4 linked regions of the Homo sapiens genome follow. The protein of the gene in region 4 binds, or shares a complex with, the protein of the main gene of each other region. Each region holds a gene or a part of one and is shown on either strand. Other genes may lie near its edges.

Region 1 (6,881 bases), on a different chromosome or scaffold from region 4:
CATTATTCTGCCTGCCTGTCTCCTCCCAAGGCAGGGCCGAGAGCCCGTCCACGGCTGCTCCACACACACCGAGGGCCGCCCTGTGCGGTGGTGCGGGGGAGGGTCTGCAAACTACGACCCCCAGGTGAACCTGCCCGCCGCTCCTCTCTGTAAGTCAGAGTCTCGCTGGCCCACCACCACACTCGCCCGCTCAGGCGCTGACCAGGGTGGCTCTCCTGCTCTGCTGGCATAGCTCAGTGGTTGTGACAGAGACCATCTGGGCTGCAAAGCTAAAGATATTTGCCGTCTGGCCTTCTACAGAGAAGGTCTGCCCGCCTGCATACAAGCTTCCGTCCACCTCCACAGGCTTCAGCTTCCACCTCCACGGCTCCCTCTCTCTTTGCTCAAGTCCCTCCCCTGCAAAATGAAACTCACCTATAAGATGGGGTCAGATGCAGATGTTCAGGTCCTTGGCACCAGCCTGACCAGTGAGCCCGCCCTCCTCACGGGGAGAGATGTGAGCACTGAGGTAGGTAGGTCTCTAACATGGAGCCAAGGTGCCCCTCCTCTGGAGTGTGGGCTAGGGCCTGTGACTCTGACGGGACAAGATGTCACTCCTGCGCTTAGGTTATGTGGCAAAGACAAGGAACTTTGCAGCTGTAATTAGAGCCCCTGAATCAGCTGACTGAGCCAATCAAGAGAGAAACACCCTGGGTGGGCCTGACTGCATCAGGTGAGCCCTTCAGGGACCAAACCCTTTCTGCTTTTTGTGTGTGTGTGTGTGTGTGTGTGTGTGTGTGTGTGTGTGTGTGTTTGAGATGGAGTCTTGCTCTGTCGCCCAGGCTGGAATGCAGTGGCGCGATCTCAGCTCACTGCAACCTCTGCCTCCAGGGCGATTCTCCTGCCTCAGCCTCCCAAGTAGCTGGGACTACAGGCATGCGCCACCATGCCCAAATAATTTTTGTATTTTTAGTAGAGATGGGGCCTTGCCATGTAGGCCAGGCTGGTCTCAAACTCCTGAACTCAAGTGATCTGCCCGCCTCAGCCTCCCAAAGTGCTGGGATTACAGGCGTGAGCCACAGCGCCCAGTTAATTGTTGTACTTTTAGTAGAGATGGGGTTTCGCCATGTTGGCCAGGCTGGTCTCGAACTCCTGACCTCAGGTGATCCACCTGCCTTAGCCTCCCAGACTGCTGGGATTAAGGCGTGAGCCCCCGCACCCGGCCCCAAACCCTTTCTGAAAGATGATTCTCCCACTGGCCCGAATAACTGAATATGGACAAATGTCAGCTCAGCCTGCAGCACTGTAGGGGCAGACCACCACGGTGGAACAGAGTCCCGAGCTGGCAGCGTCCGGGAGCTGCAAGTGTCCCTAGCCAACACTGGCCAGAACGGGGACCCTGGCCCTGCAAAGGTAAGGCACTGAGCTCTGTCAATAACCAGTGGGCTCAGAAGAAGACCCCAAGATGATGGACCCCAAAAAACAACCCTCAGTTACAACCTCCTGAGAGCCCTTGAGGCTGTGGTACCCTGGCTCCTGACTCACAGATCCTGTGAGATAATAAAATGGTGCTGTTTCAGCTGCTAAATGGGTGATTTGCTATGAAGGGCAGAAAACAAAGGGAAGCAGTGTGACCAGCAAGAGCGGCCGCTCACTCATGTCCTTCCATGTCCGGAGTCAGCATGGTGTAGACTGAGAAAACATTTTATTCATATTCCTTTTTCTTTTTGTTTTGAGACGGAGTCTTGCCCTATCGCCAGGCTGGAGTGCGGTGGCACAATCTCGCCTCTGGGGTTCAAGCAATTCTCCTGCCTCAGCCCCCCGAGTAGCTGGGACTACAAGCGTGCGCCACCATGCCCAGCTAACTTTTTGTATTTTAGTAGAGACAGGGTTTCACCACGTAGGCCAGGATGGTCTTGATCTCCTGACCTCCTGATCTGCCTGCCTCGGCCTCCCAAAGTGTCAAGATTAAAGGCATGAGCCACTGTGCCTGGCCTCCTTTTTCTCTTTTGAGACTGGGCCTTGCTCTGTGGCCCAGGCTGGAGTGCAGTGGTGCGGTCATAGCTCACTGCAGCCTCAAACCCTAGGGTGAAGCCACCCTCCTGCTTCAGACTCCCAAATTGCTGGGATTACACACGTGAGCCGCCCCGTCCGGCTGGGGCACTGTGATTTTTAATAACTCTCATGCCACCCAGTTGTCTACAATCCAGGGACAAAGAGGTTTGGGTCCCCGTCTTACAAAAAAAAGAAACCAAAGATCCAAGAGGCTATTGAATAAGTGACGTGTTGTCTGACTGCTTACTTCCTGCTGAGAGCTGCCTCAATTACATTACATGCCTGTAACCATTCATTCTCACCACCCCCTGTGAAGTGGGTGGAGTTACCAGCCCCATTTGACAAATGAGGAAACGGAGGCTAGGAGAAGGCAGCTCACTTGCCCAGTCAAAAATGCTAGGCTGGGCATGGTGGCTCATGCCTGAAATCCCAGCAATTTAGGGGGCTGAGGCAGGCAGATCGCTTGAGGCCAGGAGTTTGAGACCATCCTGGCCAACATGGCCTCTCTACTAAAAATACAAATATTAGCCGGGCGTGGTGGTACACATTAATTCCAGCTACTCGGGAGGCTGAGGCACAAGAATCACTTGAACCTGGGAGGCGGAGGTTGCAGTGAGCTGAGATCGCACCACTGCACTCCAGCCCGGGTGACAGAGCGAGACTGCGTCTCAAAAAAAATAATGAAAATAAATAAAAGAGGTGCTTCCGCATGCGTCCTCATCATCTCTGTTGCTGGGTTTATTTGAAATTTTTAAAGAGGGGGTACCGACAGCGGGAGCCTCCTCACCTTCGCGGCCTCCCTGGAACTTTACCCGGATCGTCTTGTCGATGTACTTGGACAAGTCCAAGATGCTCTCCTTTTTCTTCTTCTCCTTATCCTGCGGGGAAAGCAGAGCGCATGAGACCTGGAGCGCGGCCCGAGCTCCACGCCCCCCGGCTCCAGATTCCGCCGCGCGCTCACCGCCATCTTGTCGCGCCGTGTGGCTCTTCGCAGGCACCGCCCCGCGCCCTTTGACCTCCCCCACGCGCATGCGCGGCGCATGCGTGGCCCGGGGTCTCGGGGCGTTGCTGGGAAACATCTGCCGTTGGTTGCGGCGGGCACCGGCCGACATGGCGGCAGCGGTGGCGGCTGCGCTGGCGCGGCTTTTGGCGGCCTTTCTGCTCCTCGCGGCCCAGGTGAGCGCGGCACCGGTCCCGACGGCACCGCGGGCTGCGGCCCTTCGGCCTCTCTGTCCCCGGGCTACGCGCAGGAACGACCCCGCTCGGCCCGTCTTGGGGGTCCAGCCTCGGGGATCCGCCGTCCCCGCGTTGTCGGCCGGCGGTGCCGGGGCTCGGCCGTGACCTTGCGGGTCTGTCCCCGGCTCCTCTCCTTTCCCCGCCTCGGAGGCCCTCCGCCGCTGCAGCGCCACTCACTTCCCACCGGGTCTGAAATTTGTGCCCCCTCCATCCTCCGGTTCTGCTTCTCCGTTTCGGGGTCTCCAGTTGCCGCCGGGGACGCCTCTCTCCGGCTCTGTGGCCTTGAGCAGGCGGCTGCCCACCCCTCTCCGAGCCTCAGTTTCCCCTTAGGCGGAACGGGCACGGTGCTAAGCTAACCTCACCCTAGGGGGTGCGGTGGGGGAACCCAGAGGCGTCCCGCGCGTCCCCCAGTAACTGGCAGCATCCTGGAGCGGCCAGGAGTCCAGCCCTGCACTGGGGTCGGATCCCCGCTCCATCTTTTACTCCGTGACCTTGGACGATGGAATTCGTGTGCAGAAGGAGGACCGACTATGGTGTGGATTCTGGAGGTTCTGTCCAGGGTGACCAGCGCCCAGGGCCAACAGGCCTTCATTATGTTCATTGTGTGTCATTTGATGTAAAGAGTGTCAGGTTCTAGTGGGGACAGTCTACGAGATCGCACTGTCATAACTGCATCTTTTATTTTCTTAATTCCAAATCTTCCCTCTCTCCTGAGTTCGGTGGCTCAGGCAATGGAACCTGGAGCAGCCCCACAAATGCAGCCCTTAACCTTCACTACCCCCTCAGAGTTCTCACTCTTAAGGCGTCGCCGCCACCTGGCTCCTCAGTCTCCACTCCTCCAGCCCCACCGCTATCCCTCTGCTGTGGCTGCCTTTGTCCACCACATCCCCAGTCCATCCTCGACACAGCAGGGGTGACCCTTTCAAAGTATGTCAGACCGTGTCGCATCCAGATGAGTGCGCCGTCCAGTTGTGACCTGGCTGCTGGGGAAGCCTGCAGCTCATTGCAGTCGCTTCACTCTCTAGTCTTTTCTCTTACCCTGAGATGCCCCTGGTCTCTGCAAGGCTGTCGGGCCCCCTCGGAAGCTTTCTGAGAACCCCAGTCCTACCCCCAGCTGCTCTGTCAGCCCCCTTTGGACTCCCCCCATTCTGCAGCCAGGCACCTAGAGCTCCCCAGACATTTGGAAGGAGGGGGAAAGCCAGAGGTGGAAGAAAGATCACAGAACTCTGTGGAGAGAGGGACTCAGTTTGCCTGGGAAGGCTTTTCCGAAGCAGATCTATTTTTTTTTTTTGAGACGGAGTCTCGCTCTGTCGCCCAGGCTGGAGTGCAGTGGCATGATCTAGGCTCACTGCAACCTCTGCCTCCCGGTTCAAGCAATTCTCCCACCTCAGCCTCCCGAATAGCTGGGATTACAGGTGCATGCCACCACTCCTGGCTAAATTTTTTTTTTTTTTTTTTTAGTAGAGACGAGGTTTCACCATGTTGGTCAGGCTGGTCTCGAACTTCAGACCTCAGGTGATCCACCTGCTTCGGCCACCCAAAGTGCTGGGATGACAGGCGTGAGCCACCGTGCCCGGCCCCGAGGCAGGTGTTCTGAATGATGAGTAGGAGTTTGCCGGGTCGGCAGGAGGGGAAGGGTGTTGGAAGCACCAGAAGCAGCATAAGCGGGGGCTGGGAGGTGTGAGAGCTGGCAGGTTATTTGGGGTTGGCAAGGGGTGGGCTGTGGCTGGAGTGTAGGGTGGAATAATGCTGGAAGGAAGGGTTTACACCCTGAAAGATGTCACCACCAAGGAGGCCCGGGGGGTGGGCCGTGGAGGGTTGCTGGAGCAGGGGCACAGAGGAGGGGGCAGTGGTGCGAGTGGCCCCAGGCAGAGAGTGAAGGCAGAGCATTCAGCCTCCTAGTCTGGATGACAGGTTGTCTGGTGGAAGCCAGGCCGTGGAAGGCGCTTGGTGCTGGGGTGCGTGGACTTTAACCTGGGCGGGCTGAGGAGTGTGAGCTTTATCCGGAGGGTGGGGAGTCAAAGGATGTGTCAGAGGGACGTGAGAGAGCAGGTGTTCCTGCCCCTTCCAGAACCCTGGTTGTAAATACACCCTGAGACGCCTGTCCCTGGAGGGGGGCAGTGCTTCGCGGCAGTGGAAATTTGAGTCCGATTGCCCAAGAATGAGACTTGCTCTCAGGGCAGGAGCCTGGTTGGTGACAGTCCTCAACTCGCTTGCTTGCTACCATTCTGTGACCCTGAGCAAGGAAGTCGACCTCCCCAGTGAGACACCTCCCTTCCCCCACCCCACGGAGCCCGCTCCTCAGCAGATCTGAGCTGGAGCTGGTGGCCCTGGCTGGACCCGGCCCGGCTCCTGGAACTCCTCAGTCTTCCCAGAAGGGAGGCTCTCCCCGCCTGGACTCACTGGCCTGTTTCAAAGGCCCTTGATGTGGATGCTTTCACAGTCACTTGGAAGCGGGGTTTCTAAGCCTAGTAGTTTCTGAACCTGTGTGCGGTTGCAAAGCGTTTGTGCTGCAATTGTGAAGGATTTGGAGGTCGAGGCTTGGGCTTTGAGCCTGTCCTTGTAGCCTGAGCTTTTTCTGCTCCTCCAAATTTCGGTGGGCCTGTCTAGAACTCAGGGCCCTCTTAGAGCTGTGGCCTTTGGAAGAATTGTTCCCCGTTCCTTTAACTCAGCAGGTGAGGAAACTCTTCCCGGTGAGATGCCGCGTTCTCTGGCCTTTGATAGAGGCACAGGCTTGTTTTTTTAATGGAAAACCAGTTTTGCGAATTGTGGAGAGGAAAATGCATGAATGTGCTTTTGTGCTTTTAAATGACCCTTTTAGAGAGAAGCAGAGAAGCAGTTCTATCAGTTCCCATTTTACACAAAAGACACTTTTCACCAGAGTCCCTGATCCCATAGAACAGAGCTTGGCAAGTGTTTTCTGGGAAGGGCTAGACAGTAGTTTTGCTGGGCTCTGTGGCCCACGTGGCCTCTGGTTTGGTTGCTTGGTTTCTCCTGTTGTTCTTCCAGAGCCGGAGACCCTTCCTTAGGAATGGGCTTGGCTGTGTTCCAATAAAACTTTATTTACAAACACAGAAGGTGGGCCGGACTGTGGATTCTTGGCCTCTGCCGTGACCCATAACATCCCTCCTGGAGGAGGGGTTCTGGGGGGCTGTGTTGGAAGGGGCACCCTCCGGGCTCGGCACCGGGGCCAGACTAAGGGGTGCTCTCACGGGCAGGCAGTCTGGTGGGCAGAACTGGAAAGAAAGGGCTCCTGACTCTGCCTGGGCTCTGGGGGAGGTCACATGGGAGGTGCTTGGAGTGGGGCTGGGGCAGCTGTGGGAAGGAAGCAGCATTAGCCAAGAGCTATGAGACCCCCAGTCGATTGTGGGGACCGGGGCTCCGTGGGCTTTCACCATGCTGCCACCCCGAGGTCACCAGGGCCTTGACCCAGATGCTCCCAGACCAGGCCGGAGACTTTGCATGATTTCAGTGATGAGGGCCCGGCTGTTGGAGAGCCCGTCTGTGCCTGTGTGCTGGGGTTGGTGTCTGGCACCAGGGACCTTTGGGACCTTTAGCCAAGCCAGAGCTGTCCTTCCCCAGTCCTAGCTTGGCAGAGCTGCGTCTGCACT
Region 2 (7,025 bases), on a different chromosome or scaffold from region 4:
AAGAAGTGACGAAGGATTGAAACCCTCACATTTAAAGGACTACCTTTAGGCCGGGCACGGTGGCTCACACCCGTAATCCCAGCACTTTGGGAGGCCGAGGCAGGTGGATCACAAGGTCAGGAGTTCGAGATAAGCCTGCCCAACATGGTGAAACCCTGTCTCTACTAAAAAATACAAAAATTAGCTGGGCATGGTGGCACGTGCCTGTAATCCCAGCTACTCAGGAGGCTGAGGCAGGAGAATTGCTTGAACTGGGACCCAGGAGGCAGAGGTTGCAGTGAGCTGAGATAGCACCACTGCACTCCAGCCTGGGCTACAGAGGAAGACTCTGACTCAAAAAAAAAAAAAAAAAAAAAGGACTACCTTTAGACAAAAGCAAGGATATTCCTTTCTTTTTTTTTTTGGAGATGGAGTCTTGCTCCGTGGCCAGGCTGGAGTGCAGTGGCGTGATCTCAGCTCACCGCAACTTCTGACTCCCAGGTTCAAGTAATCTCCTGCCTTAGCCTCCTGAGTAGCTGGGATTACAGGCACACCACCATCACATCCAGCTAATTTTTGTATTTTCAGTAGAGACGAGGTTTCACCACATTGGCCAGGACGGTCTCGGTCTCCTGACCTTGTGATCCACCCGCCTCGGCCTCCCAAAGTGCAGGGATTTCAGGTGTGAGCCACCACACCTGGCCAAAAGCAAGGATATTTCATCCAAAGTAACAGCAAAGGAAACAATGAGGGATGGAAATACAGTACAACTTCTAGGTAAGGACAACACAGAAAGTTGAGTATCTGACAGTTACTCTTCTTACTATAAAGCAGAAGGTAAGGTCAAAGTCGTTAAGATCCCCAAGGAAGCCAAGAGGAAAGGAAGACAGAAGCTGTGCAGGCCCAAAATAATACATTTCCTGGCACTTGTTATGTCCAGGAATTCTGCTAAGTGCTCTAATGAATCAGGCTCATTTAATCCCCACAATGGTATGTGGTAGATGCTACTGTTTTTTTTTTTTTTTATCATTACCCCCTCACCATTCACACAAGAAAAAGAGGCTTAAAGAAGGTGCTTGAAGTCACAAAACTAGAAAATGGTGAAACTGGGATTAGAACCCAAGTCAATTACTTGAAAGTTTGAGCTACACTCTACTGCCATATGGTCTATTGCCTCTTTAATATCATTACCTTCTCTCATTCTTAGAGAAACTTAGAAAACTCTCTTTCCATAGTGTCAAAAAGAAAAACACAGTGAGAGATGAGGATACAGAATCACAAACTGATTCACTGCTCTCTTTAAACCAAGATGGTTAAAAAAAGATTTTGAATGTCTTTAAAAGGAAATGCACTCTTTATTTTTTACATAGTCCCCCTACAGAGACTTCACACTTCACATTAAGTGCCTGGTCCCTGACAGCATTTATAAGATCTGCAATGCAAACTTTAATTTAGGAAGTCAATGAAGACAGGAGAAAAAGAAAATAAGTTCCAAGTTACTATTTTCCTTTCAGTTGGTATTAAGTGCAAAGCTACCACAATCTCAGAAGTTTGAAAAAATTCGTTTCTAAGTGCAGATAGATGAAATGGAAATATATCATAAACATCAAACATACCTTGATATCATTGTCTATTCCACCAGAAATAATCTGATCACTTGTGTCATTGAAGGTCACAGCTAACACCTGGTACGTGTTCTGAAATGTCTGGATGGCTGCTTTCTTCCGGATGTCCCAAAGCTGAAGCAAAGGACAAGACAGTCTATCAGCAACATCATTCTAAGAAGCAATTGCACAGTACAAATATCCCTTAAGTACGAGGACTTTGTGGACATGAACACATCTATAATTGGGATCCTATATCACTAACTCCTGGATATCCTAATAACACACATGGTAAGCAGTGTGCTCAATTTTGCCAAGACATTTGAAGGCTGGTGAAACAAAACTTCGGTTATATTTTCAGACTTCTTTGTTGAAGTGAACAGAGTTAAATCAACATACTCTTAGAATGGAATTCCCCTAACTACTTAGTTCATATATTTTTTAGAACAACAAGGATATCAGACAATTTTTTCAAACCGTAGAGACTAATTCATTAGTAGGCTGCAACCCACATTTAAAAAAATAGAGGGTATGTCAGTGAAAATAGTATAATAAACAATGACAAAAGCTTGTCCCTCCACGAAAGCAGCAAATTAACCAGCAAAATCTGTCAGAATCAACTGTTGGAACTCTCAAAACTAATCAAAAGTTTATAGTAACCCGGCAAACCCTTAATGAGGAAAAAGGAAACAAAAAACTCCCTGAGTCCCAGTAAAAGGGCTTTGTAGTGTTTTAACTTGTGCTGGCTCTGTCTCCTGCTCAGCAACAGCTTTGAAGATAACCCATATTCCCAGTATGGTTTCCTAGTACTGAGGAAGCAAAGGGGGCCTATTTCTTATTGTCAAAGAATAAACAATAAAAATTGTTTATTTTTACCTGTCTGGTGGCTCTCTGAAGGATGAGCCCAAAGGACTTACATTTATTTTGCCTAACTTGGAACTTCCCTTGAAAACATTTAAAGGAAAGGACATTATTAGCCTCTGGTTCCTGGGGGCAAGGAAAAACAGTTGGGGCAAAAATACAAACCAAAAACCTTGGGAGGAAGGGCTGGGGAAGGAGACAATTTGGGGAATAAGAGCTTCGAAAAGCACCGACATATTCCTGGCTATCTATCTATCTATGTATCTATCTATCTATCTATCTATCTATCTATCTATCTATCTAATCTGGGGACACACTCTCCCTCTGTCGCCTAGGCTATCTATCTATCTATCTATCTATCTATCTATCTATCTATCTATCTATCTATCTATCTTTCTATCATCTATATCTATCTATCTATGTATCTATGTGTCTATCTATCTATCTAATCTCTATCTATCTATCTATCTAGGGACAGACTCTCCCTCTGTCACCCAGGCCGGAGTGCGGTGGTGCGATCTTGGCTCACTGCAACCTCCACCTCACGGGCTCAAGCAATTCTCATGTCTCAGCCTCCCGAGTAGGTGGGATTACAGGCGTGTGCCACTATGCCCAGCTAATTTTTGTATTTTTAGTAGAGACAGGGTTTCGCCACGTTGACCAGGCTGGTCTCAAACTCCTGGCCTCAAGTGATCTGTCTGCCTCACCCTCCCAAAGTGCTAAGATTACAGGCATGAGCCACCACGCCTGGCCCATTCCTGGCAATCTAGACCACTTGCATGTCCAGGGCTGGGCACATACTTAGAAAAGATCTGAGAAGGCCGTAAGCTCTCTGGTTCACCTTCAGGCTCTGCACAAGCAGGAAGTGAAAGCTAAGGAGAGATGTAAACTGCATGGCAAGGAGTTGAAGGCAGGCTCCAACATACAAAAAGACAATCTGCAAAGACTGGGAGAATTTTTGTTCTTGTTGTTGTAGGTAATTTAGGAAACTTGTGTCATTCACTAGCTGACCACTAAGCTAACGAAAAAAAGAATTCAGTGGTCACACAGGACAAAGAATACAAACTTTACAAAATTAGTTCAAAAATTCACTAAACAGGCCGGGCATGGTGGCTTACACCTGTAATCCCAGCATTTTGGGAGGCCGAGGTGGATGGATCACTTGAGGTCAGGAGTTCAAGACCAGCGTGGCTAACATGGTAAAACCTTGTTTCTACTAAAAATACAAAAATTAGCTGGTCATGGTGGTGTGCCCCTGTAACCCCAGCTACTCAGGAAGCTGAGGTGCAAGAATCACTTGAACCCGGGGAGTGGAGGTTGCAGTGAGCCAAGATCGCACTACTGCACTCCAGCCTGGGCTACAGAGCGAGACTTCGTCTCAAAAACCAACCAACCAACCACTCTCACCTTACCCCAACCCACAGAAAGTCACTAAACAAACAACTACAATAAGCAGCTCTGGGGACCTAATTTCCAGAGTCACCACGCTATAATATTTAAATGCCTAGTTTTCAACAAAATATAAGGCATGCAAAGAAGCAAGTAACTATGGTCCATATAGAAGGAAAAAGTAGTCTTCTCAACAAATTGTGCTAAGACAACTGGCTAACCACATGCCAAAGAATGAAGGTAAGCCCCTGCCTAACATGATACACAAAAATTAATTCAACATGGATCAAGGACCTAAATGTAAGAGCTAAAACTATAAAATTCTTAGAGGGCCAGGTATGGTGGCTCATGCCTGTAACCCCAGCACTTTCGGAGGCCGAGGCCAGGAGGATGGCTTTAGCCCAGAGTTAGCGACCAGCCTGAGCAACATGGTGATTCCTCATCTCTACAAAATAAAAACAAAAAGTTGGGTGTGGTGGTATATGCCTATAGTCCCAGCTACTTGGGAGGCTGAGATGGGAGGATCGCTTGGGCCAGAGAGGTTGAGGCTGCAGTGAGCCGTGATTGCGGATCTGTACTCCAGCCTGGGTGAGAGTGGCGGCATCTCGGCTCACTGCAACCTCTGCTTCCGTGTTCCAGCAATTCTCCTGCTTTAGCCTCCTGGATAGCTGGGATTACAGGCATGCGCCACCACGCCCAGCTAATTTTTCTATTTTTAGAAGAGACGGGGGTTTCACCATGTTGGCCAGGCTGGTCTCGAACTCCTGACCTCAGGTGATCCACCCACCTTGGCCTCCCAAAGTGGTGGGATTACAGGCGTGAGCCACTGCACCCGGCCAAGACCCCATCTCTTAAACAAACAAACCCTTATAGCTCTACTTTTTTAAAGCGTGGATAACACAGAGAGGGCTCAGAGATGTTTCAATAAATGAATGACACACTTGAGAAGATGAACCACAAGTAAATGATTTAAAAGTATGGGTCGTTTCATTCAGAAGAAAGAGACTTTGGGATGACTGTTCCAAGTTTTAAAGGGCTGGCATCAAAAAGAAAGGAATCAGCCATGGAACTTTAGGGAAGGTCATAGGCTTAACTTCAATCCTGTAGTCAACAAGGAGAGTCTGAGTAGGATCTGTGCCAAGATGCCTCTTCCTCCCAATTCTCATGGTTTAGGATGAAAAGTAGTTTCTTCTTTGTTCATGTAAATACGAACTAAAAATTAGTTCATTACTCAGATAAATGGTCTAAAAAGAACGCTTCACTCCTCTCCTACATGCCCAACATCTCCTACTCCCCCAACTCCTGTGGTTACAGAATCAAGTCCAAACTTCTTAACCTGGAATTCAAGGCCTTAATAATTTAGATCCTATATATTTTATAAACTGTACTATAATCTTTGTCTCAATAGATACTTCACTCAGGTCAAATCTATCTTTGTCTTTCTCCTAAAAGTCATGGTAGTCAAAGTTTGTTTAAAATAATTTAGAATTTTAGTTCCAGATAACTACCACTTTTAATAATTATTTTACTTTGAAGCAATCATAAATTTATAGAAAACTTGGAAGTAAAAAGAACACTTTTTTTGGTCTAAATCATTTGAGAGTAAGTTGCTTACCCAATGCCTTATCACCTTTTTTTTTTTTTTGAGATGGGAGTCTCACTCTGTCTGTTGCTCATTCTGGAGTGCAGTGGCGTGATCTCCGCTCACTGCAACCTCCACCTCCCGGGTTCAAGCAATTCTTCCTCAGCCTCCTGAGTAGCTGGTATTACAGGCATCTGCCACCATGCCCGGCTTTTTTGTATTTTTAGTAGAGACAGGGTTTCTTCAAGTTGGCCAGGCTGGTTTCAAACTCCCGACCTCAAGTGATCCACCTGCCTAGGCCTCCCAAAGTGCTAGGATTACAGGCATAAGCCACTGCACCTGGCCCCTTATCACTCCTAAATAGTGTCTGTCCTACAAAGATGTTCTCCTACATCATCTCAACATAACCATCAAAATCAAGAAATACAGATACACTATCACCATTTTATCCTCAAATCCCACTCAAGTTTTACCAGTTATCCCAAATGTCTTATTGCACAAGGATTCAGTCTGGAATCATATGTTAAATTTAGACTCCAGTCTGCAAGACTCTCTCAAACTTTCCTTGAGTTTTATGAACTCAACACTTCTGAAAGTTACAGGTCATCATCCCCAATTTAGGTTTGTCTTATGTTTCCTCTTGATTAGATTTAAGTTATACATCTTTGGTAGGAATATCACAGAAATGATGCTGCATCTTTGTTGTATCCTAGCAAATGGTTCATGATTTTGTCTTGTCCCATTACTAATTAGGTCGATTTGATAATTTAGTTAGGATGTTCTTTTGACAAAATAAGCCTTGACAAGTACAAGGCTTATCTTGTACTTTCACTGCCCCTGGGCTGAAATAGGAGCCCTGGTTCCTTTTAATGGAAAACAGTACCTGTGCAGTAAGGGGTGCTATTGCTATTGGGGTCTTGTTGCTCCTAAACCTTTTCAGTGGACAGTCAGGCAATATATGTACATTTAGGTACACACACACACACACTCACACATTTATGTCTATTTTTTTCTATATGTTTCTATATTGAATATTGTGAGTTCACACTTATACCTCACACAAGATTCATTTTAGTCTTCTCTTTTGTACTGGTAACTCTGTTCTTGGACAGAGAAATCAGCCTCCCATTAAATTCAATATATTCACTTATTTGATTATGCTTCCTGCATGCAACCAGTTTCCCATATTCTCTTCCACCCTTCCCTACTTGAATTGTGATTCCCATTCTTGGTTGAAGCCATGTGTGACTCTTCCTTAACCAACTTGGGTCATTCCTCTGTGTGAACACCCTCATCACTCTGCTACGGCTCTTTTCCAGTCTGCACTTCTCCAAGCATGCAGTCATCATCTTGCTCAGTCTCAGACTCCCTACACCAAATCATTTCTACCCTGTGTGGATGCCCTCAGTTCAGGCTTTGACATCCACATTCTCCCCGTACTGCTTCACGTACAGGCGACCCTTTCACCCCATTAGGGCACTGTTGGGCTGCTGCCCCTCCCTCACCCTCAAATTCCCCACACTGGTTACCTACCCTGTGTTGTATGGATGCCTTCCTCACTCTCTGACTACTCCCTACAATGTACTGCCCTGCCCAGTGTGGATGCTCTC
Region 3 (7,025 bases), on a different chromosome or scaffold from region 4:
TGACAGAGCGAGACTCCCTCTCAAAAAAAAAAAAAAAAAAAATAACAGGACCTTGTGTACAGTTACTTATCTCTCTTGGATTTAAAAATTTTAATTAATGAATGAGTACCATCCTTCCCACTAAAACCATAGCTTTACTAAAAGGTATTAACTTGAGTCTTAAACTCAGCTGATTAAAAACTGTTTTTTTAAAAAGGTACTAAAACAAACTCACAGATCAAAGCCATTGGGGATTATGTAAGAGTCCCACCACTCAATTTCAGGAATATCTCCTTCCTTTAGCTCCTTCTTAGGAGCAATGAGGGCAAGCCTAGTCGAAGTATGGATGCCTGTTTTTCGAGCTGCTTGTGAAATCTCTGCCTGTAGCTTCTCCAGTTGAGCCTAAAAACAAGATAATCCAAGACAGAAAGATAAATTGGAGTCATAGAAAACAGAATGTGTAGAATCTCAATTTTTTTTTTTTTTTGAGACGGAGTTTCGTTCTTCTTGCCCAGGCTGGAGTGCAATGGCATGGTCTTGGCTAACAGCAACCTCTACCTTCCAGGTTTAAGCGATTCTCCTGCCTAAGCCTCCTCAGTAGCTGGGATTACAGGCATGTGCCACCACCCTCAGCTAATTTTGTATTTTTAGTAGAGATGGGGTTTCTCCACGTTGCTCAGCCTGGTCTCAAACTCCCGACCTCAGGTGATCTGCCCGCCTCGGCCTCCCAAAGTGATGGGATTACAGGCATGAGCCACTGTGCCCGGCCAGAATCCCAAATATTTTTTTTTTTTTTTGTAGACGGAGTCTCACTCTGTCACCCAGGCTGCAGTGCAGTGCAGTGTAAGCTCCACCTCCCGGGTTCACGCCATTCTCCTGACTCAGCCTCCCGAGTAGCTGGGACTACAGGCGCCCATCACCACGCCCGGCTCATTTTTTTGTATTTTTAGTAGAGAAGTGGTTTCACCATGTTAGCCAGGATGGTCTCGATCTCCTGACCTAGTGATTCGCCCACCTCGGCCAAGAATCCCAAATTTTAAAACACTTCCCCGTTGAACTCTTTACACCTAACGCAACAAGTTCATAATTTCTGAAAGCTTAGAAAGGAGTTGTTCTGCTTTATTTTATCCTTTATTTAGTTCATATACATAGATCTCACCTTCAACCCCTCCCTGCACTCCACAGTATATGCCTGCAGTAAATACGCAGAAATAGAATTTTATGGCCGGGTGTGGTGGCTCACGCCTGTAATCCCAGCACTTTGAGAGGCCGAGGCGGGAGGATCATGAGGTCAGGAGATCGAGACCATCCTGGCTAACACGGTGAAACCCCGTCTCTACTAAAAATACAAAAAAATTAGCCGGGCGTGGTGGCGGGCGCCTATAGTCCCAGCTACTCAGCAGGCTGAGGCAGGAGAATGGCATGAACCTGGAAGGCGGAGCTTTCAGTGAGCTGAGATCGTGCCACTGCACTGCAGCCTGGGTGACAGAGCGAGACTCCGTCTCAAAAAAAAAAAAAAAAGGAATTTTATGAAAACCTCACTTTGAGAGGATAAAAAGGCGGCAAAGGTCATTCAATATACAATCAATTCAACTCTCCAGGTGTACTGTCTCATTAAATTTTAACTACAGGCAAGCCTTCCTTAGTCACTCAGAATGTTTCAAATTGTTTCCCTCCACTTAGTTGTATGTGGAGAATTTTCAAACTCAATTTCATAATATTTCCACTTATGTAGAAACGAATTAGGAAGTAAAATCTGCTAAAAAAATTATGTATTATATTAATAAATATATATATATATTTTTTGAGACGGAGTTTCGCTCTTTTGCCCATGCTGGAGTGCAGTGGTGCGATCTCAGCTCACTGCAACCTCTGCCTTCCAGTTTCAAGTGATTCTCCTGACTCAGCCTCCCAAGTAGCTAGGATTACAGGCACCCACCACCACGCTCGGTTAATTTTTGTACTTTTAGTAGAGACGGGGTTTCACCATGTTGGGCAGGCTGGTCTTGAACTCCTGACCTCGTGATCCACCCACCTCGGCCTCCCAAAGCGCTGGGATTACAGGCTTGAGCCATCTTGTCCAGCACATTTTTCAAAGTATTCATTGCTTTAAATCAGGGGTCCCCAACCCAACAGTCTTTTAGGAACTGGGCTGCACAACAGGAGGTGAGCAGCAGGCAAGCCAACAGTCTCATCTGTACTTACGATTGCTCCCTATTACCTGCATTATGGCCTGAGCTCCACCTCCTGTCAGATCATCGGTGGCATGAGATTCTCAGAGGAGCGCGAACCCTATTGTGAACTGTACATGTGAGGGGGCTATGTTGCACATTCCTTATGAGAATCTAATGCCTGATGATCTGTCACTGTCTCCCATCACACCCAAATGGGACCATTTCAGCAGGAAAACAAGCTCAAGGCTCCCAGTGATTTTATATTATGGTGAGTTATATAATTATTTCATCATATATTACAATAAAATAATAATAGAAATAGGCCAGCACAGTGGCTCACGCCTATAATCCCAGCACTTTGGGAGGTCAAGGCAGGCAGATCACAAGGTCAGGAGTTTAAGACCAGCCGGGCCAACATAGTGAAACCCTGTCTCTACTAAAAATACAAAAAATTCGTCAGGCATGGCGGCGCATGCCTGCAGTCCCAGCTACTCAGGAGGCTGAGGCAGGAGAATTGCTTGAACCCAGGAGGCAGAGGTTGCAGTGAGCTGAGACTGTACCACTGCACTCCAGCCCAGGTAACAGTGCAAGACTCCATCCCCCTCCCCGCCCAAAAAAAAAAAAGGCGGGGGCGGTGGCTCACGCCTGTAATCCCAGCACTTTGGGAGGACAAAGTGGGCAGATCACCTGAGGTCAGGAGTTCGAGACCAGCCTGACCAACACGGAGAAACCCCGTCTCCACCAAAAATACAAAATTAGCCAGGCGTGGTGGCACATGCCTGTGATCCCAGCTACTCGGGAGGCTGAGGCAGGAGAATCACTTGAACCTGGGAGGCAAAGGTTGCAGCAAGCCGAGATCGCCCCATTGCACTCCAGCCTGGGCAACAAGAGCGACACTCCATCTCGAAAAAAATAATAATAATAAAGTACACAATAAATGCTATGTGCTTGAACCATCACGAAACCATCCTTACTCCAGGGGAAAAATTATCTTCCATGAAACAAGTCCCTGGTGCCAAAAAGGTTGAGGACTGCTGCTTTAAATGACCTATTTATCTAATTTCCTAGAACACAGAGATTTAACAATGTTTTCTTGTCAGCTTCTTAACTTTTTCCAAATTCTGTGTTATACTCTAAGCCAGATACCTTTGTCCGTAATCGCTGAGCAATCTTCTCAAATTTGCCCTTGTCATGGAATTTAAAAGTGCGTCTCTGGCGCTGGGAAGGGGCAATGGAGACTCGGGGGTCAAAAAAGGTATTGGATTCCATGTCTTCTGATGGCTTTTCCTTTAGTTGTTGCTTGAATTGTTCCCTCTTCACAGCACGAATATTGGCTTTCAGAGTAGGCATGCGGTGTGTCAGCTCAATCTCCTTGCCTGTTGCATCTACAGTGCGCCCTTGCTCATCCAGGATCAGTGGTGTAGGTTTCGTTTGGTCTTTTAACTCCACCTTCCTGAAAAATAGCCCGCAAAGAAATAAATCCTGTATGGAACATTAAGGCAAGCAAAAAACAAAATAAAGCCAGGCGTGGTGGCTCAAGCCTGGAACCACAGCATTTTGGGAGGCCAAGGCAGAGGGATCACTTGAGCCCAGGAGTTAAAGACCAGTCTGGCCAACACAAGGAGACTGCATCTCAACAAAAAATTTAAAATTAGCTGGGTGCGGTGGCATATACCTGTGGTCCCACCTACTCAGGAGGTTGAGGAGGATCACTTGAGCCCAGGAAGTTGAGGCTGCAGTGCCTTCTCTATAAGAGTTATTTGGATGGACGGGTGTGGTGGCTCACACTGTAATCCCAGCACTTTGGGAGGCTGAGGCGGGTGGATGGCTTGAGCCCAGGAGTTCAAGACCAGCCTTGGCAACACAGTGAAACCCCATCTCTACAAAAAATACAAAATTTAGACGGGCACTTGTAGTCCCAGCTACTGAACCTGGGAGGCAGAGGTTGCAGGGAGCCGAGATCACTGCACTCCAGCCTGGGTGACAGAGTGAGACTCCCTCTCAACAACAACAACAACAAAAAGGACAATAAAATAATTCTAGGGAACAATCTCATCAGTGAGCAATACCATCTTTTTTTTTGAGACATGGTCTCACTCTGCTGCCCAGGCTAAAGTACAGTGGCACAATCACAGCTCATTGCAACCTCAACCTCCCAGGCCCAAAGAAATTCTCCCACCTCAGCCTCCTAAGTAGCTGGAACTACACGCATGCTCTACCATGCCTGGCTAATTTTTGTATATTTTAGAGAGATGGGGTTTTGCCATGTTGCCTAGGCTGGTCTTGAACTCCTGAGCTCAAGCAATCTGCCAGTCTCGGCCTCCCAAAGTGCTGGGATTACAGGTGTGAGCCACCGCGCCCTGCCAATAGTATCTTGATTAAAAATATCAAAGTGGATATTTCAGTATACAGGACAACCAAATGAAATGAGTTTATAAATTATATGAATTTATAATCCTATCTTTCCTTATCCCTGAATTCTTATGTCACTCATGGGATGCCAGACCAACTGTAGATGCTAAAAAAAATGTAACATCTTTGACCAGTTGCAGAGGAACCTCAGATCTAGTCTCACACAATGTGGTTTAATGGATAAATCTGAGTTTGAAACCAGGAAGGAAACCTGGCTATACTCCTAGCTCCAACATTAGATGAATAACCTTAATCTCAGTTATATAAATCATAAGAAGATAATAAACCCTCCAACAGGGAAGACGAGAAAAAATTCAACTGGTTAATCAATCACACCTAAGAAATATGAAACTGTGAGAAATGATCTAGGTTCTGTGGAAAAAGAGGATCAGTAATATTTTGTTTGTTGTTTTCTTTGAGCCGGAGTCTCCCTCTGTCACCCACGCAGTGGCACGATCTCAGCTCACTGCAACCTCTGCCTCCTGTGTTCAAGCGATTCTCCTGCCTCAGCCTCCCGAGTAGCTGGGATTACAGGCATGCACCACCACGCCTGGCTAATTTTTGTATTTTTAGTAGAGATGGGTTTTCACCATATTGGCCAGGCTGGTCTCGAACTCCTGACTCCTGACCTCAGGTGATCCACCTACCTCAGCCTCCCAAAGTGCTACGATTACAGGCCTGAGGCACTGCGCCCAGCCAGATCAGTAACATTCAAAGGTATTTATTGCTTCTCAAACTTCAGAAATGAAAAGGTATTCCATGAAATAGACACTCACGGGGGAGCAATGCCCATGGCATGGAGATTAGCCAGGCCCACCATGTTGGCATTGCCGATGAGTCCTGGCTTCAGTGCCAGCTGGGCTTGGATTCGAGCTTGCAGTTCAGCTGCTTTCCTTGCCTTCTCAATGGCATCATTCATGAAAGTGGCAGCCTGGGAGGGCTGAATAGTGTTGCCAATAGGAAGTCGTTCTGGTTGGGAGGAAGAAGGAGTCTTTGGCTGTGAGATAGAGAAAAAGAAATCAGAGGAATTAAGACAGGCAGACAAACACACATACATACACACAGATATACACACACATCATGGTAGACTGTAGCAGATGATTATGAAGTGAAACATGTAGTCACCTCTTCTAGTCTCTCATTTTGAGTGGATGGCAAGAAATTCTGTGCCAAAGATTATTCTGTTCAGAGTAATCTAGACACAATACCTGAGGTGTAGGGGGGCTAATGAAGCTCAGCTGTTTTTTCCTCTCCTCGATTTGTCGTGTTGCTGCCTCCATCATCTGTTTGATCTGCTCTCCAGGAAAAAAATTGAAAAACTGTTAATTTCTCCTTCTTACTTCTCCCATTCAGGTTTTTAAACCCACAAGGCTCTCAGGTCTAGACACTTAAAATGTTTTGAATGACTATACCACATTCTGCCTGCACCACAGTGCAAAAAATTTAGTCAAGATAAGTGAGCACTGGAATTTTTCAACCCATGTTCCTAAAGCAAGATTAGCATATTAGGTAGTAATATAGTGTGATGATTGAGACTCTGGAGTCAGAGAAACCTGAGTTTGAATCTTAACTCTGCCACTTAATGCCTTTGTTATCTTGGATAAGGAACTTAGTCTCTAAACCTCCTAAGTGTCTAGAAGGGGGAAGAAAACAGTACCTACCTTACAGGTCTAGTGTTAACCACTTAAATAATGCATGCAAACCTAACAGAACCTACACAAAATATTATACTTAATTTTCTTTTTTTTTTTTGAGATGGAGTCTCGCTCTGTCACTCAGGCTGGAGTGCAGTGGTGCGATCTTGGCTCACTGCAAGCTCTGCCTCCCGGGTTCATGCCATTCTCCTGCCTCAGCATCCCGAGTAGCTGGGACTATAGGCGCCCACCACCACGCCCGGCTAATTTTTTGTATTTTTAGTAGAGATGGGGTTTCACCCTGTTAGCCAGGATGGTCTCGATCTCCTGACCTCGTGATCCGCCCACCTCGGCCTCTCAAAGTGCTGGGATTACAGGTGTGAGCCACCGCACCCAGCCTATACTTAATTTTTTTTAAAAAATCATGATATTAGTACTTGAACTACTAGTTTGGGAAACAAGAGACGATGGTGCAAAGACCTGCTCCCTAGTCTCTATAAACCCCTTCTGTCCTAAAGAAGTTCAGAATGATAAGCTTTGAGGGTATGGCCAAACAACTCCTCTTACATTTTGCAAAACAGACCTGTTCTTAAACTGCTTCAAGATATTTTTAAACATTTGTCTTTAACATTTTTTCTTGAATAGGTGATATATTCAAAATTCAAAAATTACGGAAGGGTCAGGCATGGTGGCTCACGCCTGTAATCCCAGCACTTTGAGAGGCTGAGGTGGGCGAATCACTTGAGGTCAGGAGCTGAAGACCAGCCTGGCTAACATGGTGAAACACCGTCTCTAGTAAAAATACAAAAATTAGCCGGGTGTGGTG
Region 4 (7,278 bases):
AATATGGAAATTTTGTGAGCTAGGAAAGAGGATGAACGCTATCACTCTAATTTATGACCTTTCATATAAGGCCAAATGTAAAGGCAACTTCAATTGTTTTATATCTCAGGGCCAGCACATAGCAGATGTATGAAATTTGGAGTGTTAGACATAAACTTTTATTACCAAATTATAAATAATTTCTCCCACTTATAATGTTCACCTTTCAAGTTCATCTTGATTAAAATACAAGGGCAGCTTCACACCGATTTCACTAAATTTTACAGCTGAGAGAGGTTTTCTAGAGTTCACGGTGGAGTATAAAGCATCACAGCATTTGGGAGATTCTCCTTCCAGGAGCTCAGACTCTGATCCTATCTCTTTTAAAATTCAAGTCATGCCAAAATGATGGCTGATGAAGTCCGAACATTATTTAAACATCTCACATGTTACATCTGAAACCAAGCGCCCATGATGTAGAATATATCACTTCCTTGGGTAAGCAAAACGACATACTACTTTTTCTGAGAAATTTGCCCACCAGTCAATGAGCTTGTATCACTTCTTAGAAGGTATTCAACAACCAGAGAGTGTCTGTCTGTTTCCTTATTTTCTTTTTTCCCCTCCCTCCCTCTTTCTTTTCCTTCTTTCTTTTTCTTTCTTTCTTTCTTTCTTTCTTTCTTTCTTTCTTTCTTTCTTTCTTTCTTTCTTTCTTTCTTCTTTCTTTCTTTCTTCCTTCTTTCTTTCTTTCTTTCTTTCTTTCTTTCTTTTTTCCTTCTTCTTTCTTTCTTTCTCTCTTTCTTTCTTCATTTAAGAAACAGTCTCGCTCTATCATCCAGACTGGAGTGCAGTGGCATGATCTCATCTCACTGCAACCTTAGCCTGTCGGGTTCAAGAGATTCTCATGCCTAGCCTCCCAGGTAGCTGGGATTACAGGCATGTGCCACTACACCCAGCTAATTTTTTAATTTTAAGTAGAGACGGGATTCAACATCTTGGCCAGGCTGGTCTTGAACTCCTGACTTCAAGTGATCCGCCAACCTTGGCCTCCTAAAGTGCTGGGATTACAGGTGTGAGCCACTGCCCCCGGCCTCTCTTCATTTTCTATAACAAATAATTTTCATATCCCATGATTAAAGGCAGATAATGGTGGCCCCAAGTATCCAAAACTAGCACATCACAGCTTATGAGCTCCTATTGTACAGTCTGAAGGTCCAGGAAAGGTTCAGGTCCATGCCAGCACTTCATACCAGTTAATGCATTGCTCCAACAAGACCAGCCAGTATTCTTGGAAGCTTAACATCCATGTTACATATTAAAATCTGCTTTGGAGAGTGTTGGTCAATCCAATTACATGTTTGTATTTATCATCATCATCATCATCATCAACAACAACCACAACAACATCACAATACATTCATCTACATGTTCACAGGGCTGTTGGGTGTTTAATAAGCTAGACATGAGACCATCTTTTATGAATATGAAACATTGAAGGACATAGTTATTTAAAGGCATATGTACTATAGAACTGTAGAAGGGACAAACAATGAAGTGGCAAGAGTTCTCTTAGCATTTATATATCTGCATTTGTCTATTTTAAGCATAATAGCTTCAAGAGAATGAAAAGACAAGCCATAAACTGGGAGAAAATATTTGTAAAACACATATCTGATAAAGAACTATTATTCAAAATATACAAAGGACTCTTAAAACTCAACAAAAAGAAAGAACAAACTGATTCAAAATTGGGCCAAAGACCTGAACAACCAAAGATATACATATGGCAAATAAGTATATAGAAAGATCCTCCATATCATATGTCACTAGGGAATTACAACTTTAAACAACTATGAGATAGTCACTAAGCAGCTATTAGACTAGTCAAAATCCAAAGGACTGGAAGCACCAAATGCCCATGAGGATGTGGAACAATGGAAACTCTCATTCACTCCTAGTGGGAATGCAAAATGGTACAGCCACATTGTAAGACAGTTTGGCAGTTTCTTACAAAACTAAACATACCCTTGCTATATGATCTAGCAGTCATACTCCTTGATATTTGCCCAAATAAGCTGAAAACTTATTTCTATACAAAAACCTGCATACACATATTCATAGCAGCTTTATTCATAACTTCCCAAACTTGGAAGCAACCAAGATGTCCTTCTGTAGGTAAATGGATAAATAAACTGTGGTACATCCAAATAATGGAATATTATTCAGAACTTAAAAGAAATGAGTTGTCAAGCCATGAAAAGGCGCAGAGGGGTCTTAAATGCATATTTCTAAGTGAAAGAAGCCAGTCTGAACAGGCTACACAGTGGGGTGGTGCAGTGTATGCACCACTAACTGTGTACGGTATGATTCCAAATATATGATATTGTGGAAAAAGGCAAAACTTTGGAGACAGAAAAAAGATCAGCGGTTGCCAGTGGGGAGGAAGGGATAAATAGGTGGAGCACAGAGAATTTTTAGGGCAGTGAAACTATTCTGTATGATACTGTAATTGTGGGTACATTTCATTATGCATTTGTCAAAACCTATAGAATGTGCAACACCAAGAGTGAACCCTAATGTAAACTTTGGCCTTTGGATGATAATGATGTGTCAGTGTAGGTTCATCAGTCCTAACAACTAAATGAAACTAAACTACATAAGTTAAACTAAAGCTTGCCAAAATATTTTTATGACTTTAAGGCTCCTTAATAAATTAATGTTTACATTCAGGGTTTTGAAGACTAGTATTCACCAAAAGTCTTGCAGTGTTTTCTTTGCATCATAAAAGATGCTGAAAGCAAAAACCTGGGAAATACGGAAAATTGCCTTGTGAGTTAGTAAAAGTCATTTATAAGCTGCTGAGGGGCTTTTGGGAACAGCCACACTTTTTATAAGCTTGTTAGCTCATGAATTAATTCAGGATGCCCACCCCGTGTGTCAAACTGGGCCCTTACCCAGCTACTCCCCTTAGAGAAGGTTGCAGCTGCTCAGCAGATGAACTAGGCCCTTAAAACTCCTCATGGCTCCCTACCCACCACACTAGTGTTAACGGCTCGATTAGGGCTCTGTAGGAAAGGGAAAGAAGTTTGAATCAAAAATTTTCTTTTTTTTTTTAATAATTTAAACAATCAGTAAGGAATGTGCAATTTGATGTCGTTTGCAAAGAAAGTTTTTAGGAACAGGGCTTTTTATCCTATTATGTTTGTTCTTTGCACGTAATTATTTGATTTAAATGGTACTTTTCTTAAAATTTTTATTTACATTGTATTTTATATTGCAAGAACTTCAAATACAGCCCTCACAATAAATCAGTAACTGTTCGGTCTTTATCCAAACTGAACTTTTATAGAAGGATATAAGGAAGTCTCTATTCTTTAACAAATCATATCCAGTTGTTTTCTGTCCCTGATATCAATCAAAAGTTCATTTCTTCTGCCTTTAACCAAAAGAAGTTTACAAGGGAGGAACTCTTTATCTTCGAAAAAAATTTTGCATCTTAGATTTTATAACACCTAATGGGGTTAAGGATCTGTGTTGAAAGATCTTATCACTCTGTGTATAGTGTTACAAATCATAAATATAATTAAAGTATAAGTTTTCAACTGATGAGAGTATATGTGGAGGGGGAAAAACGAATCAAGTCCTGGTGTAACAGTTCTCTTCTTTTTCCCTTTCAATTCCATTAATAGAAAGAGTATTGAGAATTCATGCAAAATTCCAAACCAAGTTCCCATAGTAGCACTGAAATAAGTCTGCACACCATTTCCAATAGGAACTAGTAATGTAACACAATTAATGTCATTATAATTTGGAGTTACTTGAGTGATTTTGATTATTTTTGTATCAATTAACATTGCCATGGAAACAGTCTCTTGCTAAAATGGCTTAAGTCTTCACACATTTAATCAATATCCAGAGGTAGATTTAAAGACTTGAGGTGTTTCATTTATTTATTTATTTGCTTTAAACTATTCAAGGACGTTTCTGGGTACACAATGCCGTTACTTAAACAGTAAATTCCAGTTTCCTATGACTTCAAGTTATTTTTTACACTTCTGTAAATAAATCCTGCCCAAAAGATCACTTCTAGTTTCCTGGAATTTTGTTTTTGTTTTGTATTGTATTTGTTTTGTACTCAGATTTCTGTTAGAGGAACTCCACTGCACCAATTTTGCTACTAGACAAACCAGGAATCTTGGATTTGCGCGCTTTGGTGCTGACAGGCTTTTTCGGCCCCAGCGGGCTGCCGTAGCAGAGAAGAGCACTGATTGGCTGAGGCAGAAAAGTGCCCCTGCCTCGGCGCTTTCGGTTTTGGCTGGGATCATCCGCGGCGGCCGGGCTCGTGGGGCGCCTGGAGTGAGGGTTCTGGTTCCCGCCGGCGAGGTGAGCCGCACCGCTGCGCGGGCCGACGACGGGGCCGGGCGCAGCCCCAGGTTCGGTGCCCCAGTGTTCAGTCGCGCTGTGGAGCGGCGGCTGCAGCGGCCCTAGGCCGGGCGAGGCAGCCCCGGAAAGGGCCTGCGGTGAACAGGCTGGGGCTCCGGGAAGGGACCGCTGGGTGGCGGGTCCCCGCGAAATGCCGCGTCCAAGCTCTCCGCGCATGGAATGGCTGGGAGAGGTCTGATGGTGGGCGCCGGGACCGCCCTCAGCGAGGCGCCTAGACTGCGCGGAGAGGAGCGGCACCGTCCCGGCTCCTACCGAGTTGGCGTCCGAGATCAATTCAGGTTGTTGAAGTTCCCCAGGGAGCCCCGACGCTAATCCCAAGATTCGGCGGGAAAGCGGATCCCGAACCCAGGCCTAGGCTTCGCCTGTCTTCCAGGAGGGCTTCAGGGAATTGCGAACCCTCTCCTACATCGGGGTGGCTGCGCCTGACCACAGGAATTAAAGGCTGGACTCGCCTGTCTTACCAAGTTGTCAGGTCGAGGAACCCGATTGTATGGTCTTAAGTCCTATCGCCCAAGGTTTTCTGTGCGTATGCGTGTCCGCACACCTGCATAGCAGGCATTTTTAAGGTGTGTAGGATTAAGATGATGCGGATTACCCTGCCCCACTGCTCTTAGTAATACGTGACTATTGTAGAAAATTGCAAACATAGAAGACTTTAGTGAAGAAAATAATATTCACTGAACCCTTTCACCTACGATCATTTTCTCTTGTATGTGCTAGCTTCTACTTGAACTAAGAGTGTACATGTTTAATCACTTAACAGTGTAGTTTTCCACTTCCATTTAAAAACTCTTCCTAAATATTATTCTAATTTTGTATCTTCTTTTGATTGTCCTATCATTGTGGGTCCCAGTTTAGGTCCCGTAAATTATTCAGTCATTTCCCGATTGTGGGACATTAGATTGTTTTTGAATTTTTACATCATCTTAGCATCCCAGATAGTGCTTTGATAAACTCTTTTCCCCCTATTTTTTAGATTATTTCCTTGGACTAGATTCTCAGAAGTGAAATTATCAGATTAGATGCTGTCATCTGAAAGGTCTGTTTTAGGCCTTCATACACATTGCTGCAGTGTTTTCCAAAAAAGTTTTAGAGATGTTTGGTAATTTTACTTGCTTAAATATTGTGCAGAAATCTTGAGAGGCTTGTGTTTGTGGTGTGTGTGTGTGTGTGTGTGTCACTGGCGTTAATGCGTTAGACTACCTGAATGTTAGGGCAGGAAGAGACTTAAGTGGTCATCTGGCATAACTCCCTTATATTGCAGATGAGGAACCTGGGGCCATGAGAAGTGAAATTATGAGTTATCCAAGTCACACAGCTAATTAAGTAGCAGAGCTGGGATTAGAACTCAGGTTTCCTGCCTCCCAAGTGAGTACTCTGTGCTGTATCAGGCAGTCTCTCACTGAACTGTGGCATAGTAGATACTAGAATTTAAAAATTTGTTTACATCACCTGGGTTATTCTCTCCTTTTAAAAGTGTACTAACAGATTTTAATCATCGGAGAGACCTGTAACACTGAAAAATTGGAAAGTGATCATTTTCATGGCCAAGACTAGAAATCCATTATTTAGAATGGCAACCCCTTCAAGATTTTGACAGTTGTTTTCAGGTTCCCTATATGTTAGAATAAAACACCCCTGATTAATTATAACCTACACTCCATCATTTGGTTAGAATGTAGCTTTTGGTTATCATTTGCGGTACCTTGGAGATTTCTTTAAAACTCCTCACTTTAAAACCAAAGAACAATTTTTTTTATTTTTATTTATTTTTATTTATTTTTTTATTTAGGGCTTATAGCAGAGATTGTCAACTTCCATTGACATTTTGTGCTGGGCAGTCCTTTGTTGTGGAGGGCCGTCCTGTTAGTTGTAAAATGTTTAGCAACATCCCTGGTCTCTACCCACTAGGATAGCAGTAGCACCACCTTCCTCAGTCATGACAGTTCAGTGTCCCCAGATATTTCCAAGTGTCCCTGAGCAGGGTGGGGCAGGGTTGGGGGTACTGCCCCTAGATGAGAACCATTTGCTTATAGAAATTATCTGGAGAACTTTATAAAATGTAAAATACAGTGCCTTTACCTGAGTAGACTTCGGGAAAATCTGCATTTTAACAAGCATCTCTAGATTTGGAAACAGCTGGTTCTTGAATGACACAAACAGTTGTTTTCTCAGTTTTTGGTGCTCATAATAGAGATTACTTGGTTAGTATTTGTTGAAGTACATGCATGATCCTACTGGTCACTGTATCCATAGTTTGGGCTGATGGGGGCTGGACAGGGATTTTGCTTGGCACTGGCCTTGAATGTCTCTTCCACAGACTTGGGTAGTGTGCTTAGGTACCAGGGACACCAAGTGAGTAAGATATTTTCCCTGTCCCCAAGAAGCTTTAAATTCGCACGGGAGACCAGTCAGCAAATGGAAAAATTACGAAACAGCCTGATAAGGGCCATGACTGAGAGTGGAAAGAGGTGCTCTGAGTGGACTCACTTCGCCTTTGGGAGAGAGGGAGAGAAGTAGCCCCTGCTGCCGAGGAAGGAGGGATTGGTATGAAGCCTTCAAAAGACAGCGAGGAACTCCACTGTGTCCGAAGGGAGGATTTAGAGAGCTGTTCTTCTGCCTATCTGATCGCCTCCTCAGACACTGATCTATTAGTCTAGTGCTGCAATTACTTGGATTGTAATGTTTCCTTGCAATTTTTGCTTTTCAAATTCTTTTCACCCTAAACTGTAAATACGCCAGGAGTAGGTAAAAACTTACAGGTAAACATTGCCAAGAAATAAGGATTTTCATGTCTTCTGCTCAGTGGCATAACTCAAATCACATGAGATAGATTTCTTTGCATCTGTCCATTGT

The links.
Region 1: LSM6 (region 4) and LSM7 share a complex: the UniProt entries of both Homo sapiens proteins name them as parts of the precatalytic spliceosome.
Region 2: LSM6 (region 4) and SNRNP40 share a complex: the UniProt entries of both Homo sapiens proteins name them as parts of the U4/U6-U5 tri-snRNP complex.
Region 3: LSM6 (region 4) and PRPF3 share a complex: the UniProt entries of both Homo sapiens proteins name them as parts of the precatalytic spliceosome.

Annotation. Positions count from the first base shown.
Region 1 is NC_000019.10:2,325,566-2,332,446, forward strand, and holds the start of LSM7 (U6 snRNA-associated Sm-like protein LSm7), read right to left. Parts: upstream 3,022-6,881; 5' UTR 3,002-3,021; coding exon 2,996-3,001; intron 2,913-2,995; coding exon 2,822-2,912; intron 1-2,821. Other genes in the region: SPPL2B (signal peptide peptidase-like 2B isoform 2 precursor), read left to right, coding at 3,145-3,210. UniProt on the Homo sapiens protein: Plays a role in pre-mRNA splicing as component of the U4/U6-U5 tri-snRNP complex that is involved in spliceosome assembly, and as component of the precatalytic spliceosome (spliceosome B complex).
Region 2 is NC_000001.11:31,279,779-31,286,803, forward strand, and holds part of SNRNP40 (U5 small nuclear ribonucleoprotein 40 kDa protein), read right to left. Parts: intron 1,719-7,025; coding exon 1,596-1,718; intron 1-1,595. UniProt on the Homo sapiens protein: Required for pre-mRNA splicing as component of the activated spliceosome. Component of the U5 small nuclear ribonucleoprotein (snRNP) complex and the U4/U6-U5 tri-snRNP complex, building blocks of the spliceosome.
Region 3 is NC_000001.11:150,331,516-150,338,540, reverse strand, and holds part of PRPF3 (U4/U6 small nuclear ribonucleoprotein Prp3), read right to left. Parts: intron 5,858-7,025; coding exon 5,774-5,857; intron 5,563-5,773; coding exon 5,342-5,562; intron 3,607-5,341; coding exon 3,300-3,606; intron 382-3,299; coding exon 215-381; intron 1-214. UniProt on the Homo sapiens protein: Plays a role in pre-mRNA splicing as component of the U4/U6-U5 tri-snRNP complex that is involved in spliceosome assembly, and as component of the precatalytic spliceosome (spliceosome B complex).
Region 4 is NC_000004.12:146,171,450-146,178,727, forward strand, and holds the start of LSM6 (U6 snRNA-associated Sm-like protein LSm6), read left to right. Parts: upstream 1-4,268; 5' UTR 4,269-4,362; exon of another isoform or gene 4,363-4,988; intron 4,989-7,278. UniProt on the Homo sapiens protein: Plays a role in pre-mRNA splicing as component of the U4/U6-U5 tri-snRNP complex that is involved in spliceosome assembly, and as component of the precatalytic spliceosome (spliceosome B complex).